Regions from separate parts of the Homo sapiens genome. Here regions 1 and 2 are each linked to region 3. The links come from fine-mapping of genetic effects on gene expression. A gene starts in region 3. Each other region holds a variant in brackets. All regions are shown on one strand. Distances are from middle to middle.

Region 1 (10,304 bases), 90 kb before region 3:
TATGTGAAGTGGCAGAGCACGGCTTGGCTTTGGCATCACTGATTGATTGCAGTGGGTATAGGAAAATAGGAAATATGCAAACCAGAGGGTAAATTTAAGGCTACTTGTTGTCCTAGGCCAAAACCATCATTCCAGGGCAGGTGAAATTAGGGCCTAACATCTCTCTTCTTGCAACTCCAGGCCTTGAGTTGTAGGCCTCCTCCAACTGTAATCAGGCCCTGACACAATTATATCTTTCGCCTAGCACTAAAGTTACTTTTTAAAAGCATCAGTTAACAATTCTGGCAGTGGACAAAGCCATGGGGTGACACATTTAACATTAAGTGTCCTGCCTGATATGGACCTTTCCCTCAAGAGGAAAACCGAGGCACCCGGAAGTTCTAGTTCCAATGACAGGTGTTCCCTTATCAGGTTATACAGAGATCTACTTGTGATAAGGAAGGGCCAAGTACAAGTTTCTCTTCGTTTATTGTCCATTTCTCCCTTGAAGCTGGTGGGAGGGATGGCTATCAGGGAAGAGGGCTAGCTCTCAGGCTGATGAAATCTGCTGTGATTTTCCCCCAGCAACCACCTTGGACCTGTAACAAGTCAAGGAATGCCTGCCTTCCCGTCCACTCTCTCCATCAGTTTCCTGCCATATTTGCCCAGTTTCTCCGTCCAGCCTCCGGCTCCACTTCTTTCCCTTTCATCCTCTTTCCTATCTGGTTTGACTCCTTTCCTTAATTCACTCCTTTCTACTTACTTCAATGGGAATACAGGAAGCTGCACCCATCTCATTGCCACTGTCTTGGCCGTAAAATATATCATTCAGGATGTTAGCGCTGGCATTCACAGAACCCATGAGGACAGACACATGCTGGTGGATCTTGCTCAGGTCATTAAGTCTGTAATAAAGCAAGGACAGATAGATGAGTTGGGATTTCTGAAGGACTTCTGGCCTGGGGCACTGGTGAGGGTTTGGGTAAGGGTAGAAGTGAAAGCCCTGGGTACCTGACTTGGACTCATGACTCCCTCCTGTTATTTCTGCTCTTCTCTAGGTAGCCACCTATGCTAGCAAATGTTTCTACTCTTCTCTAGGTATTTACCTTTACCCATCCTTGTCTCACCTGAATTTAGATATTGGGAATTTGGGGAGGGTAGAAGGCTAGAACAGAGGAGGGCAGCTGACTCTAGGAACTCCAAGGCCCTCCTGATATTTAAGGGCAAGGGTAAACAGTCTTAGTTCTATTGGGTTTGGATTAGCAACAAGAGATCCAAATTAATCCCTGGGTCTAATGAGAGATGTCTAACCTGGCTTATTGCTGAGCACAGAGAATATTTCCTGCCTGGATTGTGAGGGTCCCGCTCAATTTTTAGAGCTCTAAGCTAAATTCCTCTCTGAGGCCAGGCTCCCTAGTAGCCAATAGACACAAATTGGCTTCTTCTCCCTATGCCTTCTTAGGATTCTCAGCCCTGTATCTAGGCCAGTCCACTTACTTGCTGATGAGGTTTTCTGCAAGCCGAGCTAAGTGCTGCATCTGGGCATACTCCTCGTCAGAGAGGCTCTCTTGAGAGTCCTGGAAGTCCAGCTGGGGTTGAGGGGCAGCTTGAATTTCAGTATGCTTGTATTCCCACATTTTCATTGAGTTCTCAAAGTCCTGGAGATGAATACAGTGGCATATCCTAATGATTGCTGTAGCTACTAGTGCACATGACAGATCTGTCTGTGAGCCTGACGTTTGTGGGCAATGGGTATGTGGGTACAGTGGGTAGAGGGGAAGGAGGGCCCCCTGTCCATTCCCCCTGTCATACCCATCTATATACCTATACAAGTATCCATCATTTTATTCAATCTCTTCTGGACTATGCCCTTTAGTTTTTGTTGTTCTGAGTATGCTGGATTTTGGGACACCAGGCTTGGATCATACACATGTCTGGTTTCTAGAAGCTCCCATATGAAGGCATCATGACTGACAAGACAGTGGAGCACCTTTCATGCTCCCTTCTTTGCCAAATGTAGGCAATATGTGGTGATGCAGTTTAGAGCCAAACATATCTAATTTAATTTTGAATCGTGTTTCTGTCATTTACTAGTTGTGTGACCATTAGCAAATTATTTAACCTCTCTGGTCCTCATTTTCCTCATCTGTAAAATGGGAATAAGTGTATCCACCTCATAAGATTGTGGAGAGAACCTACATGAGAGAAATGTAAAATGCCTAGCACAGAATAGGCAGTTTATAAACTGGACTTCTCTTCCTTTCTCTATTGCTGTTTCCATGGACTTTTCACAGGTTAGAGTGCAAGATAACCTCCAAGCATTGAATATGTGATCAATAATAGCTCCTTTATAAGCTTTAGAAGCTTTAGCTGAAGTGGATGACATGTATTAATGCAGCATTTTAAGGAACCTTAGAGACACCTAAAGACCATGTTCAATGCAGAATCTGTTGCTGAAGGAGAAGATTTTTCCATAATCATCTGACGCTTTTAGCTCTCTTTGCAGTGGAAAGAGGAGGATAACCTTGTCGAAAACCAGGGGAGGAAGCTCCTTGTCTCACTCTCTTGGACAGTGTTTGCAAATGTCAGTATATATCAGAGTGTCTTGAGGAGCCTGTTTGCAAATTTGGGTTCCTGGGAACTATGCAACCCTATGTGGTTCAGTGGGTCTGGTGTGGGGGCCCAAGAATGCATTTATAACCAGCATCTCAAGTGACTCTGATGCCAGGGGCACACAGACCTCCTTTTGAGGAATTCTGCTTGAGTGGAAATATTCAGTACTCAAGTGACTATGGATGAGGCAGTATAGGAGCCCAAGACAAGATTTTCCCCCTTACCCGATCTCTTGTCAGCATCTGGGCAGCGTTCTTGTATCTAATTTTGATAAGGCCTGGTCTCTGAATCCAGGCCTCCCCATCCACCTGCACTGGGATACCTTCTTCACCATCAATGGTTATCATCACCTCATGGCACTGCCAGAGAAAATGAGGAAGAATGGGAGAGAAAAATGGGGCAACTGCTGTAACTCTATCTGATAATCTCATAGTTATGGCCTTGAATGTGTATCTGAAGCAGGACTGGAAAGGATGTGAATCAGATCATCCCAGGAAGAAATGCCTGTTTCCTATGGGCTTTTTGCTCCATTGGCTTCTGCCACCTCTGCCTCCAACCTCAGTCAGCACTTTACTGCCCACCAGATAACCTGCTCACTCCACCCTGGCATTCTTCTACCCAGTTAATTCCTGGGACTATCCCACATCCTGGGTAGCAGTCAAAAACCTCAGCCCCTTCCCAGTGCCCACCCAGCCCCTGCCTACCTGGGCAATGCGATGATGATGCAGGTTGATGATACGGGACATTGCCATCTGCACAGAACCAAAGATTGCCACCACCTCCAGTTTCCCATCATCGATTGCAGGAGCCTCATATTCCTGAGGAGGAAGAACTGTGTCACATCTCCCACCCTTGAGAAATCACACCCTGTCTATAACAAGAAGGCATGTTTAAAGGCTCCTGGTGAGAATTTTTCTAGCTCATGAAGAGTGGAAACACTTCATTATTAAAAGGGAAAAAGATGAGGTCAGAAAGCCAATCTGGGAAAAGGGTACTGCACTCTTAGCCAGTTCCCTCCTTTTCCAATCCAGCATCATAAATACCTGAGGCCAGTCTTATTGGCCTTATGACCTTCTTGGGTAAACTCAGAGTAAAGGGGTCATGGTCAGCATCCCAGGAGATTTTACTGACAGAATTCCTTGGAGAAAAGAGCATGGCCTTGGCCGGGCGCAGTGGCTCACACCTGTAATCCCAGCACTTTGGGAGGCCAAGGTGGGTGGATCACCTGAGGCCAAAAGTTCAAGGTCAACAAGCCTGGTCAACATGGCGAAACCCTGTCTCTACTAAAAATACAAAAATTAGCCGGGCATGGTGGCTGGCGCCTGTAATCCCAGCTACTCGGGAGGCTGAGGCAGGAGAATCACTTGAACCTGGGAGGCGGAGGTTGCAGTGAGCTGAGATCTTGCCACTCCAGCCTGGATGACAGAGCAAGACTCCGTTTCAAAAAAAAAAAAAAAAAAAAAGCATGGTCTAGATAGCCTTTAAAGGATCTGTCAGACCCGAGGAATGGAAAATCCAAAGCCCAGGCAACACCTACGAGTTGACCTTATCCTGAGGTCTTTGGTTGAATTTTCTGCTTTCGGATGGTAATTGCCTGAAAAACTGATCATACAGCTGCTGCTAATAAAGGTTCTCGGACCACCTCCTCTTCTCCCATTGTCTATTTTTCACTTCAGTTAGCACAATGCTTCCTTCAGAGAGACCTTAGTGGGATCATGCCTTTCTTCCTCCCCATTCCTTGTTCCATACTAACCGTGGTTGCTGTGTTGCTTCCCCAGAAGTTGATACCTCCAGCATAGCTGGTAATGTTGAGCACTACAATGCCTTGCAGGTTTGGCAAGGAGATGGTTTCTCCATCACACTGAAAGAAAAGAGTAGCTCTCATTAGCTGGATCTTTAGATAGCAACATGAAGGAACATTTACAGAGATGGGGAAAGGGCTCTGTCTTCTCTTCCATTACATGGAAATCTATCTTCATGCCTTCCTCCCATGAGCTGTGAGGATCACAGAGTTAAAGCTCAGGAAGAATCAGCATGTACGGTATTCCCAAGGCCATGAGATTTCCTTTCTCCATACCCAGGAAAGACTACCCGCTTTTCCACTAACCTCCAAATGCACTCGTTCTTCCAGTTTCCTGTAAGAGCGCTGCAAAAGTTCTTTGGTTCCCAGAAGGCCATACCACATCTTGTTCTTAAGGCGGCTACTACATGGAGGTAAGCATTAAGAAAGCAGAGGGTGAATGATATATAGATAAATGGTGGAAAAAGACAGGAAGGAAAACCATCTTACTTCTCAAATGCCTTCTTACAGAGAGGAGTCATGCTAAATGGCAACTGGACAGCGGTTAATGTAACTGATATCCAATGCAAACACTTGAAGAAATGGGTTCCTGGGCCCCTTTGAAGCCTCAGTATCCTATCAATAAATAAATTTTCCATTTCTGCTTGCTACCAATATTGGTCCAGACTTGGAAGAAACAGGCTATATTCAGACATCAATGCTCATAAAAAGCTATGAGCGTAGCTGGCTGGTACACACCAGCTACCCTAGTTGTGCTACTCCAGGAGATTTCAGCTGCTTGGAATCAATTTCATTTGAAACACGTGACTCTTAGAGTGCAATTTTTTTTGAAGCAGCAACTTTTCTGGCAAAGTGAAGTACTTTTCCAAACACCAGATCCATATACTAAATGCCTAATTCAATGCCATGGAACAGATCTAAGCTTGTAGGGAGATTTTAGAGGAGGAGCCAGTGGAGAAAAATAGGAGACAGGAAAGGATATCAGGTGACTTGAGGTGGAGGTGGGGAGGACAGCGTCTTGTTGACTGTGGAATCTCTGATAGAAATAGGTGGGGCACTTACGATCACTAGAAAGGCTGGATATAGTTTACTTGGAGCTTGTAAAGTAGAGCCACAGAAATGAGCCATCATCACATGGAATGAGTTTTGAAATGTCAGAAGGCTAGCACAAAATTATTGAGACACTGTTTAAACCATTCATTCTCTGGGCACTTTGGTGTTCTCATCTACAAAAATAGGAGTTTAGGTATATGAAAATGTACAATACCTAGAACAAACCAATTCTGAAAAAAA[G/T]AATCAAGTGGGGGACTTTCATCTCCCAATTTCAAAAACTACTGTAAAGCTATAGTTATCAAGATAGTGTGGTACTTGCATAGGATAGACACATAAATAAATAGAACAGAAGTGAGAGTCCAGAAATAAACCCTTGCATTTGTGGTCAATTGATTTTTGACAAAGGTGCCAACACGATTCACTGGGGAAAGGATAGCTGTTTTGAAAAATGGCTCTAGATCCGGGCGCGGTGGCTCATGCCTATAATCCTATCGCTTTGGGAAGCTGAGGCGGGCGGATTGCCTGACCTCAGGAATTCGAGACCAGCCTGGGCAAAATGGTGAAACTCCGTCTCTACTAAATTACAAAAAATTAGTCAAGCATGGTATCATGCACCAGTAGTCCCAGCTACTTGGGAGGCTGAGGCAGGAGAATTACTTGAACCCAGGAGGCAGAGGTTGCAGTGAGCCGAGATCATGCCACTGCACTCCAGCCTAGGCGACAGAACAAGACTCCGTCTCCAAGAAAATAAAAAAAATAAACAAATAAATAAATTAAAATGGTGGTGAGATAATTAGATATCCACAGGCAAAAAGATAAACTTAGACTCTTACCTTAGACCCTCACACTATACGTAAAAATTAACTCAAAGTAGATCATACACTTAAATGTATTAATAAGAGCTAAAACAATACAAACTTTAGAAGAAAACTTAGGAGCAAATTTTTAAGATCTCAGATTAGGCAAAGATTTCTTACAGATGGCACCAAAAGCATGGTCCATAAAGAAAAAAACTGATCAATTGGACCGCCTTAGAATTCAATACTTTTGTATTTCAAAGATACCACTAAGAAAATGAAAAGACCAGCAAGAGACTGGGAGAAAATATTTGCAAATCACATATCTGACAAAGTTCCTGTTTCTCAGCCCAGGCCTGCTTTGAGAAAGAGGTTCTAGTGGTGGTGGCAAGGGTGGGGTGTTGTGGGGTGGGGTGTCACACTTTTTACTTATAGCTTCAATGTACCACAAGAACTCTGAGACTGACTTAGGCCTTGTCTGAAGTATGAAAGTGCGAGAAGGTGCCATGCAGGCCAACACTGGATAGGGTAAAATTAACGGGTTCAGGGGAACCAGGTTAGGAACACCAAAAACAAATAGAGGGATGTTTGATACTTTGCAACTTTGTCAAGTGAAAACAGATCTGAAGCCACTACTGAAACCTGGTTAAACTTTCACAGACAGAACAAAGGTGGGCGATTTGCTAAATTGAGTCAACATAATCTGTTGTCAGTAACAGTAACACAGGTAGCTGTGTTTACACAGAAATCCACAGGTCTGGATTTGAAGGCAGCTCAAGTTTAGGATGCCAGTGCAGTCATCCAAAATTTGGCACACACTGTCCCGCTAGACTAGTCTTGGGGCCAATGCATTTTACTTCCAGTGGGTCCCTTTCTTTCTGTTGCTTGTCTGAGAGGTAGAGAATGTAGGAATACGTATGTGTATTGTGATAGTGTGTTTGCATGTAGGGAAGGGAGTTTCTTTTCCTTACTTGTATTGCCCTGGGTGTTCATCTCTTCTGGTGTTGAAGTCCAGAGAAATTTTAGCATCCAGTCCAATTCCGAAGTAGTTGTTCATGACACATTTTTCTTTGAAGCGTCTGAAATTATTCAAAGAAGAGGACAGACATTGGTGCAGGAAAGAAGTGCCGCTATCAATTGGGCATGAAGATGAATCTGCATGATGGAAAACCAGTGAGGGAAGGCCCCCTCCACACTGGGCACTAACTATAACATTTTTGAGAGGCACATGTAGATATCCTTTTGTGTGAACAACTAGCTTATTAGCTGTAAGAGGGAGTGCCTCGCCAGTTGGGAAGCTTCAGTGGGATTGGAACTCATAATAAAGAAGCAACATTGATGATTTTAGTCATCTTTGGAGGCCTTATGTATGAGTGGCCCATATTTTCTTCATATGTAGTATTAAGGGAAATACTGTTTACTCCTATAAAGAACTTTTGAATATCCTAGACACAAACGTGCCATGACAGTTAAGTCTGCACAACTGCTCTCAGTGATGTCCGACATCAAAGGGGAAAATGACCACACATTTGGAAGGAAAGACTGATAAAAGAGGGTAGATATGTACATAACAAAAAAGCCAAATTATTTGTCAAGTCTCCTGTGTCCATCTAGGGTGTCAGCATCAAAACCAGTGGTGTGCCATAGCCAGTTGGCACCAGCTCATGTAAACTGATTATGCATATCTCTTTCCAACTCCAGATTCAATGGCATTATATCACTAACTTAAATAGGCCATGGTGGAAGGGTTTACACCATAAATGAATCAGGGCTTTCTCCCCCAAGAGAGGAGGTTGTTAAACACTTTGCCAGTGCACTATTGATCAAAATTCATTAGGTAGATCCATGAGAGCTCAGACATAAATTTGAGCCAATGGTGAAGTGTGGGGGCAAGAATGCGGGTTGGAGACAGGAATAAAAATTGTTTTCTTAAATAAATTATTTAAGAAAACATAAATAATTTCTAGCTGTGTCCTTTTGAGAAATTAAATGGATACAGTTTAGCTGTTTAATCTTAGATTACTTTTTTATTCATTACCATACTGACCTTACATCTCTCACATGAGATTTGCCTCCCTCAACCACAGTCCAGAGATTGGAGTTTCTCTAACTAATGTCCAAACTGATCTTCTTAATGGAACTCAGAATGAGTGAGTGTGGCAGAACTTGGCTGCTGCCGATATTCTAAAGAGGGAGAACTGGTGAGACAGATGTCCTTAGATTTGCTGCCTAGTCCCCTAGTGACCATTTTAGTTTTTAGTATCTTCAACCATTTACTGTTAAGGGCAACAGTGAAAAAAAGCAAGTCCTCTGTAATAACAACAACTAACATTTATTAATTATTTATAATAATAACAATAATAACTGCAAATGCATATAACACTTAATTATGGGTGCCAAGCACTACTCAGTGCAAGTACTTTTCATATATAAATGTAATAAATACAGCAAACCCATGATGCAAGTTCTACAATGGTCTTCATTTTACATATGAGAAAACTGAGGCTCACACTGGTTTAGTCACTTGCGTAGGTGACACAGCTAGTAAGTAAGAGAAAGGATTTGACTATGGATATCCTAAGATTGTGCTCTTAACAAGAGAAAGAAAGAAGCCATTAAAAGGTGATAGAGTTAAATACTTACATAGATTCAGGTGTAAAATGTAAGTGATCCAAGTTAAGGTTGTCCAGGTCCTCACTTTTGAGAGAAGATATAGAAGACAAAGTGCCACGACGAGAACCTAGACACAAAAGACATCACTTGGGTGACGGATACAAACAAAAAAGCCCTTTCCCCTCACTTGTATTTCGCCCTATTTTCTCTGTGGAGGCAGGGTCAAGCTCAGTGACTTTCTCCTAGATAATATTAAGGGTTCTAATTCCAAAGAGGGATCCTCTTGGATGGATAGGGACTTCCACTGAGAGAAGAATAAAGCTGGGCTGCTTGCTTGCTGGCAGTGAAAACAACTTCAAATCTTGTATTTCATCAGGCCAGCCTCTTCAATGTTCCTAATGGGGTCATTACTCTGGACATTGGCATGGGATCTTATAGTGTGAGTTTCTGGGAAAGACGGAGGGGTATCTACTGCAGGATTATGGCTAAAAGAGGATGCATAAAAAATACATATTTATTCTTTGGGAGCTAAACAACAGTGACGAAGGCTAGAATAAGGGAAGAAGACAGAAAGATCCTTACGGCGTCGTGGGCTTGTCTGGTTAATATCTTCTGGGTCATCTTCCAGGAAGAAAGTTGAACTAAAGTTCTTAACAGATATTGTCTGTCTGCTTTCCTCATCCAGAGCTATAGAGAAAAGTGGGAGGAAGGAAAGCAAAAAAGAAAGGAGGAAGGGAGGGAGGAAGAAAGGAGGGAGGGAGGATGGAAGGAAGGAAAGATTAATTACACTTATTGAACATTTATCGAGCATCTATTTTGTTTAGTTAGTGGGTAGATGATGGAGACTCCCATTCGACCATCACGTCTCCTCCATGATACTGTTTGTAGTCTCAGCTTGCTTACAGTGTTGCTGTTTTTTCATATTCATGCCTGAGCTTTCTTTGTTTTACTGGTTACTCTTTTTTCTCTCACCCAGTACATGTGGTTGTGAGTAGAAGCTTGTGGCTGTGGATTGGGGTATCAGCATGGGAAACTCTCTGCTCTTCTACCTCCATTCTATTAGTTCATTTACTTATGTGGCTTTTGTCTATAATTGAGCCTCTAGGACTGTGCCACTCTTTCACTCTAATGTCTCACTCCACACCTGGAACATTTGGGAAGTCTCTTTCCTTTCACCAGCCAAATGTTGTATAGCTGAGATGCCCAGTCTCAGCCTGTGTCAAAGCTCATAGGTTCAATCTCTACCCCTACCAGGGAGGTATTTTCCTATCTCATAGCCACAAGCTACACCTCTAAATCTAACATATGTGTTGATGGAGCAGACTGAGGGTTGGTTGCGACAGTTATGGCTACATCCGTTTAATCTGATCCACACTGCTTGGAAACTAATTATAGAAATAGAGGCAAATTGATTGTTTAATCCTTCCACTGTGCAGAAGGGAGATTTT
Region 2 (10,304 bases), 70 kb before region 3:
ATTTGGGCCTCAGTTTCCTTATCTTCAAAATGAATCATTCAAAAACTTAAATTAGTTTCCCAGTGTTTAGATGAAAATGGACCTTTAAAAGCCAATCATTATGCTCATAATTTGGCTCCTAAAGATGAGAAGATGGTCAAACTTACTCATAACAAGAAATATACAGATTAAAACTAGCCTATGTTAACATTTTTTTTTCTTGTCTAGAACATTGGCAAAAAAAAAAAAAAATAGATAACACACTTGACTGGGGAGGCCATGGGGAAATAGGCACTCTCATACACCAAGAATGGACGTGCTGAGTGACACAAGCCCTGTAGAGGTGAATTTGACAGTATCTATGAAAATTACAGAGGCATATGCATTTTGACCTAGTAATTCCATTTCTTGGAATTTTTCATATAGACGTGTATGTAAAAGGATATGCATGAGGCTGTTCACTGTGGCATTATTTGCAATAGCAAAAGACTGAAAACTACTAAATTATTCATCATAGTGGACTGGTTAAGTACGTTATGGTGTATCCATACAGCAGAATATCTTGTAACTGTAAAAAAGAGCGAGGAAGCAATTTGTTGATAAGGAAAAGTCTCCAAAATATACTGTGAAGGAGAAAAAGAGCAAGGCGCAGAACAATGTGCATAGTATTAAAAGGGGTGGATAAGAATATCTATTTATATTTACTGGTATATACATGAAGAACTACTGGAAGGTATTTAAGAAACTAATGGCAGTATTGAACTGTGAGTGAGGATATGGGGGCTGTAGGAGATTGAGAAGATCAGAGAAAAGATAGCAGCAAGACTTTTCATTAAGTATTATGTGTATATATGTATTTCTTTTTTAAAAAACTGAACCATGTGAATATATTAACTAGACAAGAATTGAATTAAGAAATAGGAAAAAAGAATTATGCTAATGCTGTCTATAAATTAAATAGCCATGAGGGTGTAAACTAGAGTGAGCATAGGAAGCTTAGGGAGAAAATTCTGTAATTAAGGCAACTTGAACTTTAACATCAAACCTCATCTGTGGATGGGAAGACAGTGGGACATAGCCCCAGCAGGAAGGCAGTCCCAGGAGACTACAGGGGCAGCTCCATCTAGTATTTCCCCCTGAGGAAGAGAATATCTGAATTTCAGCAAGGCCAAGTTTGTCAAGAGAATCTTGTGAACCAGGTGACAAAGATGGGTGCCACTGAGGGCAGAAATGTAATAATGTTAAGATTTATAACCAGGCAATCCTTTCCACAAGATTGCTTTTGAATAGACTGATGTTAATCATAAGGGAGTGCCCAGTATTATTCCACAATTTTAATTGACAATTCACATGGAAACATAGAAGTCTGGCTTGTGAACTCTGAAGTACTCAAAGCTGGAGGAAGAGATACTTAATGACAGAATCAAGATTGAAAAGTGACCTTGACAGGCTGACTGGTCAAAGTCCAGGGATGAAATGTAAAGGGAATAAATGTGAAGCTTGCCCTTTAGGCTCAAGGACATAAATTGTACCAGAACAGGACAATACGAACTTGACTTGGCAGCATCAAGTGTGAAAAGAGCTTAGGGGACTTAGTTGACTTTAAGCTCCTGATGAGTCAACAGCCTGAAAGAACCTTTCAAAAAAAGCTCATGTTTCTTTGAGCTGCATTAATATAACCATAGTGCCCTAAACAGGGAGCCAACAGTCCCACTCAAATTCATTCTGTTCACTCCAAAGAAAGATGCGAAATTGGCATAGGTTGGCTTACCATTCTCTTCCCGTACTTTTAAAATCCTCCCTTACAAATGTCAACTCATTTAACCTTCATGACACACCTGAGTACAATTGTTATTCCTTATTGGCAGAAAACAAATGCCAGATTAACCACAGAGAGGTTAAGTAACTTGTCCAGGGGCATACAGTAAATGATAGAGTGTGTTTCTAGGACTAGTAGTATCAGCAACATCTGGGACTTGTTAGAGATGCAATTTCCTGGGCCCCACCCAGATCTACTGAATCAAATGCTCTGGGGGTAGTGCCCAGAAATCTGTGTTTTAACAAGCCTTTCAGATGCTTCTGATACAACAACCACTGCACTTCACTATTTTTTCTCCATATGAGCCAGTGATGCTATCTTAGTCGTTGCTCAGCATTGAGCCTTACATACAGGCAGTATTCAGTAAATGTATTAAGGAATTCATGTAACAAATCTTGACTGTGTGTATACCGTATACCCAGGTCTGAGTCAAGTGCTAAGGATACAGAGAGCTCACAGTCTGGGGTGGAAGATGGACACCATTATAATGTCATGTGTTAGGTGCTTTGAGATATGTCTTCTTGGTTTATAGCCATAGAAGTAATTGATTTGTTTGGGAGAGTGGGAAGAGGCCATTACAGAAGCTGTCAAACAGAGAAGACAATGTTTAATTTTGAGCTGGACCCTAAAGGATAAGAGAAGGAATATACCAAGCAGACTGGATAGGAAAAAGGGATAATTGGAAGGAATTCTCAGAAATTAGAGTCTACTGACTGAATAAATATATACGTGAACAGATGGGTGTGACTCAACGCTAGCAAGGGCCTTCTCAGAAAGTCATGAGCTGGATGCCCTCATGACTTCAGCTGGGTGCTGAAGAAAGGATTCTCTAGCTCAGCCAGGGGGCATTGAACCAGACCATCTTTAAGGACCTCACATGGCTAAGATTCTATGACTGGAAGATGCAAAAGATTCCTCTGGGATGGGACCTTCCAGTAGGAAACTTACCCATTAAAGGGCATAAAGCCACAGCCAAGAAGCCAGGAAGACAGAGTCAAGAAGATAGGGAAGTTTGAAAGACATTTCTAAGAAGTTCTAGGACAAGTAATGCATGATAGAAAGAAGGGCTGGCAGTGAGTGAGATTCAATTGGATCAAGATTGCAGATGACTAGGAGGAAAAGTTAAAAGCTAACTCATGGGATATTAAATAAGACACCAAACAAAAAGAATAGATTAGCCCAGGTGCTCCTAAGCAATAATATTATATCACTGGTGGAAAGAAGAAGAAAGTAACAATGCCATTATTTGACAAGCTATAACAAGCATAAGAAGTGATATAGGATAGGAAGAAATAAATTTTAAAAACACCAACACAAGGACAGGAAGCACAGAACATGTTTGGCCCAGTTACAAAGGAGAGGCGGCAACCCTCTTAACACCTATTTGGGGTCATTTGTGGCATGCTGAGGTGGGCCATCTGCTTAAAGACATCTTTGTCAGGTCCCTGTGGGGGTGAGCAAAATGTCTCAGATTCAAAACTAGGTTGATTTCACTACCAGCCTGATTTTGCTCAGCTGACCAGTTTGCTACTTTTCTTCTTGTATCAACTGCATCTTCCCCTAGTCCCTCATTCTCCTAACTAGGCAAGTATCTCTTATTTACTAAGTCATCAATTTCATCACCTCTTTGGTCAACTACCTGGTGGGTGACTCCATATGGATAACTATTTGAGTAGATCTGAGAATAATATATGCATGTATACCTGAGTGAAATTCAGTTTTGTGTCTTTACATGTTATTATGGGGACATATGAGTATACTTGCCTGCAGAAACCTGTATGAATGGCTCATTCCATGTACTAAGGTCTAGCTATATCTGTGTTAGGGTTGGAAAAATAACCGGAAGGATCTAGAGTGGCTGTGTGTGTGTGTGTGTGTGTGTACGCGTGCACATATATATGAGCACGCACATACACATGTGGTATGTCTAGTTCTAAAACTATGTTGTAACGGCTACAGGAATCTTTGCCCCCTTCTGTTCTCTAAGGAAACCATCTACTCTTCTTTCTTTTCCTTTCTTTGCTTCCAGCTAATGCTGGCTCTTCCCTGGCAGTGAAGTGAGCAACTAGCATCTATGTGGGGATAATTTTTAAGTCAGTGAAACGAGGGCTCACTAATCACTCTTGGACCAGTGGATATCCCACACGTCAGAGATGGACAAATTAGCAAATTAGAGAAATATAGATTAAAACATTCCAGGAAGAATTTGAACTTTCCTCCAGTAAGTGAAATTGACCATATATAGAGTGAAACTAATCATACACAAACTGAAATTTATGAGCAGTGTATCTCTTCCCTGGCTTAGTGAAATAGTAGTATGTCAGTGGTAAGTATATTAGATTTCTAAATCTCTTAGTATTAGTAAAATAGGTTAGGTCTTTTAAGCTGTGATATATGATTTTGATCTTGACAGTTCCCACTCTTTAATAATGAGTAATGGGAGAAGTAAATGAACAAGTCAATGGCAAAAAGGAGAGTCTCTCAGAAAAAACAAAGAAAAAGTAGGGAAGGAGAGGTGAATTCAAAAGGCAGGTGCCAAAGAGTGAATCATCCCTGTGGGGTCTGCACTTTTTATTAGGCTAGGAGACTAGATATTTAGTTGCCCAAGAAGTTGAGGGATTTAATTTTATGGTCCTTTGAGGTTATGTTTTTAGATACTTAGGCCCTTCACATATTATCATCTATCTTCACAATAGATAGCTTCATTCCCGTTTACAGATGGGGAAAGCAAAGCTCAGAGAATGTAAGTGACTAACCCAACATCACATATCTAGTAAGTAACTAAAGCTCATAATTGCCTAGCTCTTGTTTTTTTTCCTTACGTCATGATACCTCCATGTCTTACTTATTCTTAAACAAACACAAAAACTATACAAAATACCCTTCTTCTTGGCTTCTGCTTTTTTTGTTCTAACATTGCTAGACCTCTTGATAGAAGACTCTATACAAAGTTTATTCTTGCTGCATTGATTTCATTACTACCTCCTTTCCGCTCAACCTCCTATAAATGGTTAATATTTCTAAGGTTTTCTCATTTCCAAATGTCTCTACCATTCCCTTGGCACTTAGCATATGACACATCAAATTGTTAATTGTTGTATTATATCAGTAGCCTGAATCCACAATAATCAATAGCTCTGGCAATGCCCATGTCTTAGATCTTTCTGTAGCCTTCAGACACCTTGAGAACAGAGTTCTTAATAAATCACTAGAGTCCAGGAATTGACAAAGCATCAGTGAAGTTGGGGTAATGATCATGTTAGTTTCATATTTAGGAACAACATTGGTGTTTGTTTCCATTTTAAAAGTAAGATAACCTGGCCTTCATGAAGTTCTTCCTTGACCACCTGGACACAAACTTATTTAATGACTTATCCAGTGTTTGGAAATCATGAAAAAGCTGAAATCAATTCTGATCAGAAACAATTGTGACCGAGCTACAGAGAACATGCCCACATACATATACACCAGAAAGAACAACATTCACAATCCCAAAGGTAAGAGAACCAGGAGCTATCTATATACACATGCACAGTCCTACTTCCCCAAAATGTTTGACTGGTTGAGGAGAATAATTTAATTGCAGTGCTTCTTCCCAGCCTTTGCACCTTCCCTACATGCCCAATGTGCTTCTGAGGTTAAGATTTAACTACTCACCATCGCCTTTGGGGTCGCTTAGAGCAGTGGGAGGAATGACTGATGAGCGATGGCTTCTGAAGCAACATTCCTTGGAAAACCGTCTCCTACAGTCATCATGCACCTGAAACGACAAGAGAAGAGCAGAGAAAAAAAAGGAGGGGGAGAGAAAAGGATATCATTGATCAGTCTTGAGTTCCAATACCAAGATTTAGATTCTTAGTATTTAATCTCCCTTTCTGAGATTTGGTGCCATACATATATCCCTAACTCACCTGAACACCCCCATTCTACTCTGAGCCTACACTGTCTCTCAGTGTGGCCTCAGAACTCTGGTCCTTTCAAAGGTAGCTTTCAGAAGATACCCACCTACAGGCACTGAGAAATCACCAGTTCTAAGGCACAACCTTAGTGGCCTGCAGAATGGGGAACTTACATGCAGTATAAAAGAGTTAATAATAATAATCTAATATTACACTTCAATCCTTATAACAACAGGTGTGTGAGGTAGAAAAAACACTATTGAATTCATTTTAAAAATGAAGATGCCAAAGCTCAGAGAGGTAAAGGGTTTTGCCCAAGGTCAAACAGCTGGGAAGTGACAGCTGAGACTCTGCTGCCTTTCCCACAAGCGGCCATTCTTTCCAGATTTCTGACATCTTCAAGTGCCACTTCCTGGAAAATTACACATTTTCTAGGGGGAATGAACCTGGCCTGGTTATTCAAAAGCAATTGAAAAAAAAAAACAGAGGACAACCAGAGTCTTCTAAGAAGAAGCCCATACTTCAGTTTCTTCTTGTCTAGAAAACTCAGTTTTGGAGAAGCATCTAAAAGGCTAGAAATCTAGATCAGGGTCTCTCAACTTCAGCATTACT[G/A]ATATTTTGAGCCAGATAGTTCTTTGTTATGAGAGGCTGACCTGTGCATTGTAGGAGGTTCAGCAGAATACCAGGCCTCTACCCACTCCATGTCAGTAGCGCTTCCCTCCACCCTGAGTTGCAAAAATAAAAAATGTCTCCACACACTGACAAATGTCTCCTGGGGGGCTAAATTACCCCCAGTTGAGGACCACTGGTTTAGAGGCATGGTAGTGTTGTAGTTAAGAGTGTGGTCGGCTGGGAACGGTGGCTTATGCTCATAAGTCCAGCACTTTGGGAGGCCAAGGTAGGAGGATCACTTGAGCCCAGGAGTTTGAGACCAGCCTGGGCAACATAGCAAGACTCCGTCTCTACAAAAAAATTAAAAAATTAGCTGGGCATGGTGGCATGTGCCTGTAGTCCCGGCTACTCTGAGGAGGCTGAGGTGAGAGGAGCCCACCTCACACGAGCCCAGGAGTTTGAGGCTGCAGTGAGCTGTGATTGTGCCACTGTACTCCAGCCTGGGCGGCATAGTGAGACCCTGTCTCAAAAACAAAAAACAAAACAAAACAAAAAAGAGCATAGTCTTTGCAGAATTATGTATGAATCAAGACTCTTGCTTACTGGCTGAATGACCTTGGACAAATGAAATTGGTCCAAATGACCTTGGACCCCTTCACTTTTCTGACCCTCACCTTCCTCATCTGTAAAATGGGAACAATGAGGCCCGGTTTAGGCTTATTGGAAGGAATAAATGAGATCATGTATATTAAGCACTCAGTATATAGTGGCAATAATAATGTGTTAATATTATCAACCATTTTTAATTAATAAAGGTTACAAGTTCCTAGGAAATAGTGAATGAGAAAGGGAGTAGGTTTCTCAAAGGCAGACTCAGAACTTATTTTTAATTGCCCATACTGCCATTAGAGAGCTCAGCTTTTCCCATTTGTTAGTAGGCCTCACCAATTAAGAAGCAACAAAGATGGTCTTAAATCTTTCTCCCAAAGAAAGGCTCCATAGTCAGATCTGGAAAGGCAGGATACTAAGATTTATACTATGGAATCTGTTTAACCTGTTTTGAGATAAGAGTTTCTTAGATTTCTATCTATGTGTATACATGGTCAAGCTCTAAGCCACTCCCTCGCCAGGAGTTAAGTTCTCTAAATATCAAGATGAGAAGAGTCTTACCGTAGAATTACACCACAGGCAGCGGAAGTCTTGAAGTCTTTGATAACTGCCACAGCTCTCATGACACACTGCACACTGAGAGCTGACAGGCATGTTTCCTTCTACCCATTGATGGGGCATGTTCTGCAGAAGGGTAAAAAGACACAGGAGGTAGAAGTTAGAGACATAAGGAGAGGAAGGGCCAACTGGAATAATTGTACTACTCCATGGAGGACATTAGGTAAATGACCCAAATGACCCTGCCCTCCCTACTCCAATGCAAGTGAACAATGACAAGTGGAGGAGGGAGGTTCATTCTTCCAGATAAGTTGGATTGTGAGCCTAGGACTTTGCTTATCTGGAGTTAGGAAGAAGTCTTCCTCCCCCTGTGTATCCTGGTTGAAGGGGACATGGGAGAGGCCGACTGTGGGAAGACATGGCTAGTACTTACTACTTCATCTGCAGGCAGAAGGAGGTCATCAGTGATAGACAATGTATTCCACTTGCAGTCTTTGCTTGCTCTCAAAGCACACAATCTGTGAGATTTCACTTTGCACACTGTGAGAAGAGGAAGAGAAAAGATGGGTGTGAATCTGGTGACAGTGAGGATTCTAATTCTCTTCCCAAAGCTGCTCTGAAAGTTAGAACACAGATGCATTCTAAATAGTTCTAATGCACCTCCAAAAACCTATTTCCAATAGGATCCAGTTCCTTTTTATTCTTACTGGCTAATCTTTTTATTATCCAACTTGAATGAAAATTGATGGTAAGAATGAGGTGATTTCTGTCTTTTTAACACTTGTGATAATATAGTCCCATCCCCCCACACTCATCCTTCTATTTTCATCCCCTTTATGTTAGTTTCCTCCCTTTTTCTTTCCTCAATCAGGGTTAACCTCACACCAGAGTCAGTGACCTAGTATGAGTTAATGATACTAAAGCCACATGAGTTCCTTCATCCCTATATCTACCCACTGAGCTTCACTTCCTAAAGGAATCAGAAAGGTACCTTCACAGATGATGGCATCTCTAGATAAGGCAGGAATGCTCTCTCGACAAACATTGCAGTGCTGGGTCCGGTGGCTGTAACTGGAGTACCAACAATGCATTCCAACAAGAAAAGGGTTGTTTTCTGCTGCAGGTATCTAAAATAAATAAACGAGAAGAGAGAATGGAGGATGAATCACAGAGACGGATTAAAGAGGGCCTGAAAATCTGCTGCTAAGTCTAAAATGGCCTGCTGTATAGGTGTCAGAGCGTGTGAAGGGGAAGACTGAAAGTTGGAGCCAATACCTGGGACCTGGGATACTTTGTGTGCGTTTTTGTTTGTTTTGCCAGTCGTTTCAAAAAGAAAAATAATAGAGGGGCAGACCCTGGAATAGAAGCTGAAGGCAGGAGTAATTATCTTTTTTTTTTTTTTTTTTTGAGAGGAAGTCTTGATCTGTCACCAGGCTGGAGTGCAGTGTCGCAATCTCGGCTCACTGCAACCTCCGCCTCCCGGATTCAAGTGATTCTCCTGCCTCAGCCTCCCAAGTAGCTGGGACTACAGGCATGCACCACCACGCCCGGCTAATTTTTGTATTTTTAGTAGAGACGGGGTCAAGTGATCTGCCTGCCTCGGCCTCCTGAAGTGCTGGGATTACAAGCGTGAGCCACTGTGCCCGGCCAGGAGTAATGATCTTTATACTGCTTGGCCAATCACTCTATTGTCTTAGTTCAAGCAAAAATGTGTTGTCTTAGCCTTGGCCTTGGTTCTCTAGCCAGGGAATAAAGACAGGAGGTAAGGCTCTGACTCTGGGCTAGGGAATATTATAATAAGGCTTTAACTACCTCCTGGAGGTATACACTTTCCTTCCTGGCTGCCAGGTGAGCAGAGCATTGCTTTACCTGGACGACAGTTTCATCTCAGGGGATTCTTTTAGGAATCCCTTGAGTATTCTTTTAGGAATACCACGCTCTGACTGCCTACAGCAGTTTCCTGATTAATCAGCTTAATTCATCCAATAATCCATTAAACAAATATTTACTGAGTAAATACTTTGTGCTTGGCACTTTTCAAAGCATTTGAGATATAGTGAACAAGACACAACCCCTGCCTACATGGAGTGGCATTCTTTTTGGTGTCCTCTTTCATGGTACTGAGTTTGACATTTTTTGTTAATGTGCCTTAACATTTTTTGTTAAATGCTGCATTTGTATTTCACAGCCTGACTTTCATGACTGTAGGGAAAGCAAGGGTATACCAGCAACAGTTTTGAGATTGAAAGAAGGGAAGGGTGAGCACCAAAAAAACTCCAAGGACTCTTACACCTTTTCACTAATTCCTGAGAATGTCTGATTTTCTCCTTCTCTGCCTTCCCCTGAAGTTCAGACATAGGCGTACACAGAGCTTTTCATTCTTGACATTATAATGAGTTGGGTGTGTAAAGGCATGACAAGACTTTAAAAAGAACTATATTTTCTTTCTGACATCAGTTGACAGTGGGGGGAGAGAGAGAGAGAGAGAGAGAGAGAGAGAGCTAGCTACTGAGGGCTCTAGCACATTAAGTATTCATCCTTGATCAATTTACATGAATTAGATATCCAAGACATAGCCTGCACATTGCCCTCTCTGACCACTCCTTCCCACTTCTGGCATGCTGGTTACGTGCTAAGCTACTGTTGATTTAACCTGGAACCTTCTGGAAGGGAAAGCTATTTTGATGAACTAAAGGCTCACATGTTCTGGGATTGCTTTGTGATTGTAATGTTTATTGTACATTAAGACACTGGAAAGCTCTAGGGTGATTAGAATAGAAGATGGAGAGTCCTGAGGGAGTGACATACTCTTGGCTTTGGCACTTTGA
Region 3 (10,304 bases):
TATTTTGAGAATGAGCTCTATTTGCTTTGGTGAGGGTGGGGCATCTCCCTTTAGAATGGCTGCTTGCTTGCTTTTTTTTTTTTCCTTTAAAATTATTTTTTTTCCACTGAAAGAATTACAGTGGGTGGGCTTTGGAAAGGTCGGGCACCCTATCCTTAGCAGGATTTCAATTTATTTCCTTTACAAAACACACACGCACCAACAAAAAAGGTCTTTGTGAGTAATCGGTTCAGGGTCTCTGCCTCTTCTCGTTTCTTCTCTGGCTCCTCTTCTATGCTGGCCCCCTCTGGGAGCATCAGAAGTGGAGCAGCAACCACCGCTTTGGAAAAAAATTCAGAGCTGATGAAATGTCAGCTAAAAGACTGTTCTTAGACAAATGAGGATCCTATGTATCACAAAAGGCCATATGTCAGATTTTTAAAAAAATCTACAATAGAAAATTCAATCATTACATCCTATAAGCTGTCAAGTTTTATTTTTGCCCTCCCCCACCTGCTGCCTTGTTCAAGGAAATAAAAGGGTTAATAATGCAGAGGCAAGCACTCTGTAAACTGTAAAGTGCCACAGGAGCAGAAGGAACTATATAATCCTTATTAGAATACCCCTGAATGGTTTCCTGGTTTCTATGGATATTTTTTTCTTTTTCTTTTTTCTTTTTTTTTTTTTTTTTTTTTTTTGCCTTTCCTTGGAGGCACTTTCCCTTTGGGCTGCAGATCTGCAGAAGCCCTAGTCGGAGATTTTAATAAGTGCATAAGAATTGTACTCTGAGAAACTAAAGACCACTGACCAATACTTCATTATCTTTTCTAGAACACCCTGTAGTGACTGCTTAGGAACTATTAGAATACACCAAATAAATCAGATGGTATCATCAAAGCTTGGCAAGGAGGGGGGAAAAACTGAAGAGAAAAGAAAGTAATTTCATTCTGACCTTCAACAGGTTAAACATCTGAATCTATAATCCCAAATCTGTTTACAGTCACTGCAGATACTCTGTTCACTTAGGAAAAAAATTTATTATCCCCTGAAGCTAACAATATCATTATTAGTCTGCTGCTGCTGGGACTGCATGGGATAAGGACACTTTCCAAGCCATTAATAAAAATTGTTAGTAATTTGCTTCTTAATTATAGTTCCAATAACCACTCTGAAAATGGAAAGATTGACTGTATTTCCTTAAGGGCTATATATTCCATGCCATTTAAATAAGTATTTACTTCTCACTCTGAAACCAATGAGAACAAATTTTTATTCATTCACAGCAGCAGCCTCTACATTGCTGGAAATGGATAGTTTTCAAGCTTCAGCAAGTGTTTATTAAGCAAAATCAAGGAGGGCTGCATTGAACTAGGCACTGAGAAAGGCCACCCCTATTTTTGAGAAGCTCAGAAATCACTAATAAAATATTGATAGGAATCACCAGATATCATATAAACAAATGCTTGCTATTTTGCAAGAAAATGTACAAAAATATCAGTTTTGTGCATAAAAGCTGTCCTGATATGGTTTGAGGATAATGGTTATTACTGTGCAGTCATCAGGAGGGATACACAGACCCCTTTTATCTCCCCCAAAAGCCATGAAAGTGTATCTCCCCTCAGATTTTCATCAATCATTTGTATGATGTGATTTTCATTTCATAGCTGGTCAAAACCCAATGAATAAACAAAATTTTGTCTTTCTTCAAGCACAGCTGATGAGAGAGAAAGAAACATGGTCTACTTCATATAAGCCCCATCCCTCCCCCAAGAGAGTTATAGCATTGCTAAAGAACCAATTCACACATCCTTACTTACACTTGCTGCCACCAGGTGGGAGACCATGGCTCATTTCCTGGGAATTGAAACATTTTAGAAAGGAAAGAAATAGACATGTTTGGTTCACAGACTGACTGTGTTATCCTGGTAGCTATTTGAAAAGAAAACATGAGCCCCCTTTTCTCAGTCAATTGCAGGTTCTGAAACTTTCCTGAAATTCCAAAAAAGAGCAGACTACAAGGCTGAAAGATGTTGGTTTTTTGCTACAATACCAGTCAACAAAATTATCTGGGAGAAACTTGCAGTCATATTCAAACACTTGGTTTTGCTCATTTCATCCTTTGAATTATCAGGATAGTTTCATGCTTGCTATGGAGGATTTCATTGCATGATGAGACCTGTATTTTGTTTTGTTCCCTGACATTTTGGGCACATATGTATAGTATGTGTGTGTGTTAGGGGTGTGTGCACGCCTGTGCGTGTTGCACAGTTTTTTCCCCCCAAGCTTGCCTCGAGGAGGCAGTGTTTGAAAACAACATCACCCCAGCTAAGATGACAACCTGTTTGCCTTGAATGTTAAGATACAAGCCAGCTGGTTGCAGGTGCCATTTGTCTGAGGAAGATGCAGGAGAGAATGATCCTATCACTGAAGATCAGATGTTCCCAGCTGCACCAGAGAGCAATTGCATAGCAACATTGAGGGTGTTGTAAAAGGGTTTGGCTCCAAGCAATTTAATTTGAGCACGTACCTAGATCCTTTACATCCTTCAAAATTCTCCAGAGCCACTGATTAGTTAATCTGCATGGCCTTCTTAACGGATGGTCGTGGTTCTTAACCCCATTCTACAGATAAGTGATTCAACAAATGTCTGGCTCTACTAAGGGCAAAGTCAAACCCCTGGGATCCTGGTCTCCTGCCAGTGTTGCCAGATGTCTGTGGGTCAGCTAGCCAGCACGTCTGAGTGGGCACTACGTAGAGGAAACTAATCTGATTCCCCTTACCTTAATCTTCCTCATCTGTCTGGCAATGACATTTTCCTGTCAAACAGGTAGGAGATGCTTTCGCATGGGAGCAGGGGATGCTTTTCACTGGGGGAAGGGTCCTGGTCGCCAGTCAGCCTTTCAGAGGCCAAAGGGGAGATGCATTCTCTGGGTATTACGTCCCCACGTGTCAGTTTCACAGCCATGTTCCCAAAATTTCGCTTAAGATGGCCACAGGTCAGGTGATTCCTGCTTGTCTCTTTCCCACCAGCTTAATGCAAACTCTTCCAAAAAGACAAGATCAATCACCCGGTGAGGGTGAGCTCCCAAATCTAGCCACCCCAACTTTGCCCTTCTTAAGATCACTGCAGGAAAGGGTATTTTCAGGAAGGGGAGGGATACATCCCCTGGTGAGAGCTAGGGTGTTGAATTTTTAAAAACTTATCAGAGTCTCCCACCGTCATGTTTTATTTATTTTTAAACCTCTGCACTTTCTTTTCTCTGTGAAACTTTTCATTTTAGCCTTCTTTTTCAGTTATTCGTCATTGCAGATATTTTGCAAACTCAAGCCTCCCTACTAAGAACTCAGGAAGCAACCAATGCTTCCATTTCGTGATGCCAATCTGCCCCCTCCCCTCCCGCATTCTACATTCTATAAGTGTGCGGTCCACAGCAGAAGGGTTCCTGAGCCGTGTCCTTATGGTCTGCTAGGCAGCAGGATGGACCGGTATTGTTCGTGTGTTGTGTTATTCGTTTGTGTGTGTGTGTGTGTGTGTGTGAATGCGCGCGCGTGTGTATGTCTTCCTGCAGGGGAAGCTAAATTGAGGTGTGTGTGTGCATTATCCTGGTTTTCAGTTTTGTGGAACGAAGTTTAGGGTAAAGGAAGAGTAGGGAGAGTGCAGAGAAAGCAGGAAAGACAGGCATACTCCCGCTTAAGAGCAGACGGGGTTTCAGGGTCCAAGGTAAACACGAAAACCTTTTTCCTCCCTACTCCCCTTGGGCGAGTGCCAGAAGATTCTCCACTCATCTTTTCCCGGCTAAGTGTAACGATTTAGAAGGCGTCGCGGTAGACTGGTAGAGATGAAGGTTCCCCTTCACACGTTCTGCAATCCCAACTCCTATTTTCGTGTCTCTAAACCAGGACTCCTGTACCATTCCAATTGGCCCTGGTGCGGGATGCCAGTTGCCCCGTTTGTGACGCTGCGCAACATTGTATCACTGCGTTTGCACCTACCTGCTGGGAAATCCTGCAGACAGATGGAATGGTGGCTTCGACACACGCATGCTCTCCCCCTCCTCCCGGAGAACCCTGCCCTTCCCCTGCAGTGCGCGTGGGCGCCGCCCATCCCCTCGTCCTCACCAGGAGTACCAGCTCGAAGCAGCCGGCAGAGGCGCCGGGCACCTCCCTGGAGGGCCGCCAGTTGCGCCCAGCTGAGGCGCCCCCTCCCCAGTGGCAGGGAGGGGGCCAAGCAGGCGAAGGCTCCGCAGCTTGGGCCTCTGCGGCAGTGACCGCGGCTAAGAGGTGTGTCCCACCGCCCCCACTCAATCCGTCCGCTATGTATTCGGGGCCAGCCCCAAACACTTCTCCAGGTCTCTTGCGCTCCCCGAGGGTATCTTCCTCCTCTCTTTCAAGATATTGGCGCTCACCGCACTGTCGCTTCTCTTCAAGGGGAAAACTGCTCCGATTCCCACCCCCTGCTGTCACCCCCGTTTCTAGCCCCAAACAGCCCATTCTCGATTCCCACATGTTGCTTCCCGCCTCCCAACCCCTTCCCATTCCCCCGGGTTCCCCATCCCTGCATCTTTCTCAGCATCTTGGCCAGCCAGTGCCAGACAAGCGGGATGCAAGGGGTACCCGGAGTCCCGCGGGCTCCATAGCCATCTGACTTCGCCTTGCTTCTTTTCCCCGCTTCAGGGGGTCTTTTGCTTACCTTTATTCTGGACCACGACATTGGCGTTCTGGGCGATGGCGATGGCGATGGCGATGGCGAGGTCTTTAGACCTCTCTCTCGAGTGTCCACCGGACATTGCAATAGACATGGTGCTGGACTTGGACGGAACTCTGGAGCCGCCTCAGGGCAGAACTCTGGGGCCAGCTCTGTCACAGGTTCTGGGGTCGGCTCTGGGGCCAGCTCTGGGGCAACTTCTGGAGTCAGCTCTGGGGCCGGCTCTGGGACCGACTCTAGGGCAGGTTCTGGAGTCGGCTCTGGGGCAGACTCTGTGGCAGGTTCTGGGGCCGGTTCTGGGGCCGGCTCTGTGGCAGGTTCTGGGGCCGGCTCTGTGGCAGGTTCTGGGGCCGGTTCTGAGGCCGGCTCTGTGGCTGGTTCTGGGGTCGGTTCTGTGTACAGTTCTGTGGCTGATTCTGAGGTCGCCTCTGGACAGGGACCTGGAGCAAGCTCTGGACAGGGCTCTGGTATGGGTTCTGGCGAAGCCTCGGAGAGCAGCGGCGGAGCCGGCGGCGGAGCCGGTGGTGGTGGCGGCGGCGGCCAAGGCGGCGGAGGCTCTGGAGACTCAGCGGGCTGCTCTCCATCCTGAGGCGGGGCAGTGCCCTGGGCTGCGGCAGCTCCGCGGTCCATGGCCGCACACCGCTTCAGGTCTGGGCAGCCTGAGTCCCTAAGCCTGGAAGGCTAAAGTACCCTCGGGCGCCCCGCCCACTCCAGTCCGGCAGCCCCTCGCAGGGTGCCAAACTTTCCCCCATCCCACTCCATGGCTGGCTTGGCTCTGAGGTCTAACCCGTGGGCGCTCAGCGTCTCCCTATGCTGGAACACGCCCCTCAGTGTGCGCACACCTCTTCGTAAGCAGCCACGGGTCCGATGGGCGGGAAGCAGAGGGGCTTGCGAACGCGGACTGGGCAGAGCGCTTGATGACCTCCTAGCGACGCGCGGGAGGGGAGGGGAGAGACAAAAAGGGGAGGGGGAGTGGAGCGGCGTGGAGGTTGGGGGGCGGGCTGGAGCCTTGCCGTGTTTAACCCTTTAGTGACACGAATGAAAAAAAAAAGCCAGAGGCGAAGTTGAGGGTCTTTGCAATCCCCCAACCACTTAGCTGCTGGTCAGAATAGCTTCCATCCTGTGTCTGCTCTCTCACCTCAGCAGCAGGTGAGCTTAGCCTCGGACCAACCTCTTGCCCCCCATCTCCAAGCCTCGATGGGCAAGTAATGCTTTTTATCTAAGCCGGGAAAAGAAATTAAGCGGCATGGTGTGTGTGTGGTGGGGGGGGGGGGTGCGGGGGGGGCGGGTGTTCAGCCTCCTTTGGATTGAAGTACAATTTGACCCTCTTCGGTTTTTTGCATTTCTGAGCTTTGCCGTTGGGTACAGAGTTTGAGGTGATTCGGGAAAGGAGTGTGATGAGGGAGGCTGGCGCCCCGGCTTTCCGCAGCCTGCAGCCTCCCCGAGAGCAAGTCGAGAGTGCCCCGGCAGCAGCTGGGCTTCGCGCTCGGGAGCTGAGGCTATCTGGGCGTCTGTCTGGCTCGCCTATGCTATAGGAGCCTGCCTTGTGCTTTTAGCTGGATTTCCCAGCCATCAGCAGGAGTTTGTTTTTCCGCCCCCCCCAAACTTGTTAACGCGCGCGCGCGCGCGCGTGTGTGTGTGTGTCTGTGTGTGTGTGTGTGTGTGTCTTGGGCTGGGGAAATTCACTGCAACACCCACACCCTTTTCACCTCCTGAAGCAGTCTGACATTAGAGATGGGAGATTCTCTTGGGAAGAGAACGACTGATGCCTAGCGCAGCACCTTTCCCACCACATCGGAAGACTTTAGAAGCTCTTTCTGTTATAGTCACGTACACATACACACAAACCATCATCTTAGTCAGACCTAGACTTTAGACGCCAATATATTACCAATTGTAATTAAAATTTGAGAAGACTACCTGTTAAGCCACAGCTGGGTGGGGGGAGCGGACGGGGGAGAAATACCTGTAAACCTGATTTGAAATATGACAAGTGAATTTATCTCCCATACACATAATGCTGCAGTTGTGGGTAGCAGCCTTCTTTCTGCAGCCCCTTCTCTAGCCATCTACTCCCAGACCATATCCCCCACTATTCCCTCTTCTTTTGCCAACGGACACTGACCTAGCCAGAATTTTCTAGAATCTGCAACATCTTTCTGTTGCCTATACTATGTCTCAGCAATAAATAATACCATAAGAGCACAGTTTCACCTAAATCCCTCCAAAGACCAGAATCTCTGGTGAGGTCTGCATTTCCCAGATCCTCGCTGCAGCCTCACAGCCTAAGCCCACCTTTCCAGAGATGTGTTAACACTGCTTGGCAGCTACTAAGCTAGTGCAGGGACCGTCCTTAAACTCTGGGGATGGGAAGACCAGGAGAAGTGAGCCCTATCAATTCCCTCACGTGGCAGTCCTCCTTCCAGTAAATTCACCTTAGGAGCCCACTCTCTTCACCCTCCTTGGGCTTGTTCTCCTTTCCCCTATCCCACACTCAAGTAGCCAAGCCGCCTTTAACCCTAAGAGTTCAGGACTGAAATATACAGGTGCCAGATCTCATTATTGGATCTGGTGCATTAAAGTGCCAGATCTGACCAACCAGCAAGTCCAGGACTGGAGATCACTTTTCTGGCTCTCACACCTTAATGGAATCCCTGTCCTTAGAAGGGGCAGATATCCCACATTTAAATTTTGCTTTTTACTAAACCCAACATGTAGTTAGAAGGGCTGAAGGCTGAGCAGTCACAGAGTAAGATGGCCTCTTGGGTTACAGATGGCCTCTTGGGGTTTGGCATAGACAGTGTATTGTCAAGCGAGATACCACCAGGGGACAACTTGGAGTTACTGCTTTATGTATGTTTATTGAAACTCTTGTCTATAATTCTACACTCAATTATAATGAGGCCAACATTTATGATGTAGACTCTTGCTACAAGGTCATTTTGAGATTGAATGCTAAAATAGTTGCTTGTACATGGCTTTTGCTCCATTAGGGTAGGTTACTGGAGATATACTGCCTGAACTGCATTATGATTAGTTTTGAAGGTTTTAAAAAATTATTTTTCAGCCCATCATTAGCTACCTTATTGCCTCATATCATAGTAAGGGTTCTTTGTGTGTGTGTGTCGGGGGTTCCTTAGCCCAGCATTGAATACCATGCTTTACATTGGAGGCAGAGTAGAGGGATGGCCAGAATGGTTGATTGGTACCTGATTTGGGGAGGCACCTTTGCTGTAACTAAGCTACACCTTCCTCTTTCCCATAACCTGCTGGTTTCTTAATAAAGTTTTACTTAGATGCTTCTGTATTTTCCTCACAACCTAACCCAGGACTTGAGGTCATAGTCAGGATTCAGGAAATGTCTGTTAAGTGGATGATTCATTGTAGGTTACTGGTTAGGATGTATTTTTCTGCCTTGCTTTTCAGCACTATTTGATATTTCAAATGATTAATGATCTCCTAAGAGGCTCTCTTTTAATTAAACAATACAGATTTTTAAAAAGGCAAAGAGGTACATAAGAATTTCTTTAACCAGACATATCTGGAATGATGACCGTATCCACAGAGGCTTGGATGAACATAGTTCTGGATGTCCCAGGGCAGAAATGGTCCTTAGCCTGGGACTTTTGGGCATGTTATATAAGTTACCTGATTGGGCTGGATGAAGGATCGATCAGTACAATAGGCTCATATCTTTTGAATATGCAATGCACTACCTTACCCAACTGCCAGCATTTACTCTGATTCTACCCAGAATAAAGCTTATCCAAGCCAGCATGGAGCTCCTTCAATTTCAGCCGTGCTCAGAGTTCTGGAGAGGCAAAGGAGAGAAAAGCTGAGAAATGTGACAAAATTAAATCTCTTCTCCCTTCCTGTTTTCATTTCATTTTCATTATTGAATGAGAGAGTGGCACTGTATTGCTAGAGTGGAAGCCCTTCCCCCCTTGATCAGTAGCTTTAAATTCCCTAAGTCCTCCCTTTTAGAGCAATTTGGGAAGAAATCAGTGTCTCTCCCGAGTCTTAGCAGCTGCCAACCTCCCCTACTGTACTACCTCGGGATGTGCCAAGCCAAAATAGCAACCTTTATAATAATCTACTAAATAAAATAAGGAGATGGGATGAAGAACAGGCAGCATGTATGGAGAAGGTAGAGGATTCAGACTATTAATTTAGCTGGGATTAAAATGCAAACCTGTTAACCTTTACTCACTCTAGTCTCCTAGGATTAATTGATATAGGATTGGAGAGTTAAAAAGTTAATACCTTGCATTTGTATAATGCCTTTTTATTTCTAAAGTACTTTCACATATATTATCTCACTTCAGCCTCACAACAAATGTGTGAGGCAAGCAAATTCGGACTTCCATCACATACCCCTGTCCCCTACCCTTTAACAGATGAGAAAACACAAGTCCAGTGAGACTAAGTGCCATGTCTTAGGTCACAGAGATAATTAGTGGTGGAACAGACATTTAGAACTTGTGTCACTCAATTTCCAGCTGAGGGAGACCAGAGCACAATACTGAGGGCTGTGAGCTGGGGGCTGTGAGACAGGGTCTGTGTAAATCCTCTTCATAGCAGAGTGGGAAGGCTGCCTTAATGCCTTTTTCTTTCTTGAGCTTGTCAAAGGAGCAGAGGTTTCTCAGCTCTCACTCTTTCTGGACAGCAGTTAATGATCTGCAACCAAGCTCACTATAGGAGGTCCCTGTTTAGAGGAACATTTTTGAATATGTATGTAATATAATAATTCAACCAGGGTATACTCATTTTATTGGTTCTGTTTTTATGTTTTCTTGAAGTGAAGCACTCCACAGTTAAGCGGTATTTACTGCCAGTCTGTGGTGTATACAGCCCTATTAGGTGTCCTGGGGAAGGAGAAAGGGCAGAAATATTAGACGTGATCCTTCCCACAAGAATTATTAGAGCTTGGTGGTCAAGATAAGCCAAATACAGGTGAAAAGCAATCCAAACACAGATGCCAGTTTATGATCATGACACCACACTTTGTACTTTTCTGGGGGGCTGGGGGTGGGTGGGGACTAAGTGTGACAGAGCGGAAAGGAAATTGCAAGGGGAGTCAGGAAATCTGGCTTCATATTAAGGTTCTACCACTAAACTCTCAACATGACCTTATACAGATCATTTAATGTCTTTGGGCCTTAAGTTTTCTCGTATGAAAAATGGAGGTGGGAATAAAGTTGAGCTTGATCATCTAGCTCTAAAGTCTGTTTTAGCACGAAATATCAGCAATCCTGTGAGTGAATCACGGACAGCTTTTTGTAAGGGGACAGATCTTGAAATGGATCTTGAATGATGCAATTAACATAGATCAGCAAAGGGGAAGTGGAAAGGCATTGCAGACAAGGAGAGAAGCAAAGATAGAAATCTGGAGGTGAGAATGAGCCAGGCTGGTTGAGATAGAGGGAACATACCAACGACTGATGAGAGATGAGATTAGAGTGAAGCAAGTGGTAGGGAGAAAGCGGGATGTAAAAGGTTTTCAACATCAGATTGAAGAGTTGGAAGATTTGGTTTTAAAGGTAATGGGAGCAATGAAGGCTGTTTGAATATAGGTGTACATGGTAAAACTAACCAGTGAGGAAAAATTGTCCTTGACTGT

Evidence for each region. PIP is the estimated chance that this variant, and not a neighbour inherited with it, causes the effect.
Region 1: its variant is the best candidate, but not a certain one, in a credible set for the expression of DGKK in whole blood (TOPMed, PIP 0.62).
Region 2: its variant is the best candidate, but not a certain one, in a credible set for the expression of DGKK in whole blood (TOPMed, PIP 0.64).

The regions. Positions count from the first base shown.
Region 1 is chrX:50,375,282-50,385,585 of GRCh38, forward strand. It overlaps DGKK (diacylglycerol kinase kappa), which reads right to left. Exons shown (of 28, transcript NM_001013742.4): 16 at 9,439-9,543; 17 at 8,887-8,983; 18 at 7,215-7,322; 19 at 4,700-4,796; 20 at 4,346-4,453; 21 at 3,297-3,410; 22 at 2,817-2,951; 23 at 1,477-1,637; 24 at 743-884. Among named protein-coding and RNA genes, the nearest start is that of DGKK, 90 kb to the right of the region's middle. The variant G/T (reference allele first, on the strand shown) is at 5,687.
Region 2 is chrX:50,395,582-50,405,885 of GRCh38, forward strand. It overlaps DGKK (diacylglycerol kinase kappa), which reads right to left. Exons shown (of 28, transcript NM_001013742.4): 5 at 8,468-8,603; 6 at 7,910-8,016; 7 at 7,480-7,602; 8 at 5,456-5,558. Among named protein-coding and RNA genes, the nearest start is that of DGKK, 70 kb to the right of the region's middle. The variant G/A (reference allele first, on the strand shown) is at 6,310.
Region 3 is chrX:50,465,365-50,475,668 of GRCh38, forward strand. It overlaps DGKK (diacylglycerol kinase kappa), which reads right to left and starts at 5,461. Exons shown (of 28, transcript NM_001013742.4): 1 at 4,670-5,461. The coding sequence starts at 5,314. RefSeq lists an enhancer at 4,624-5,421.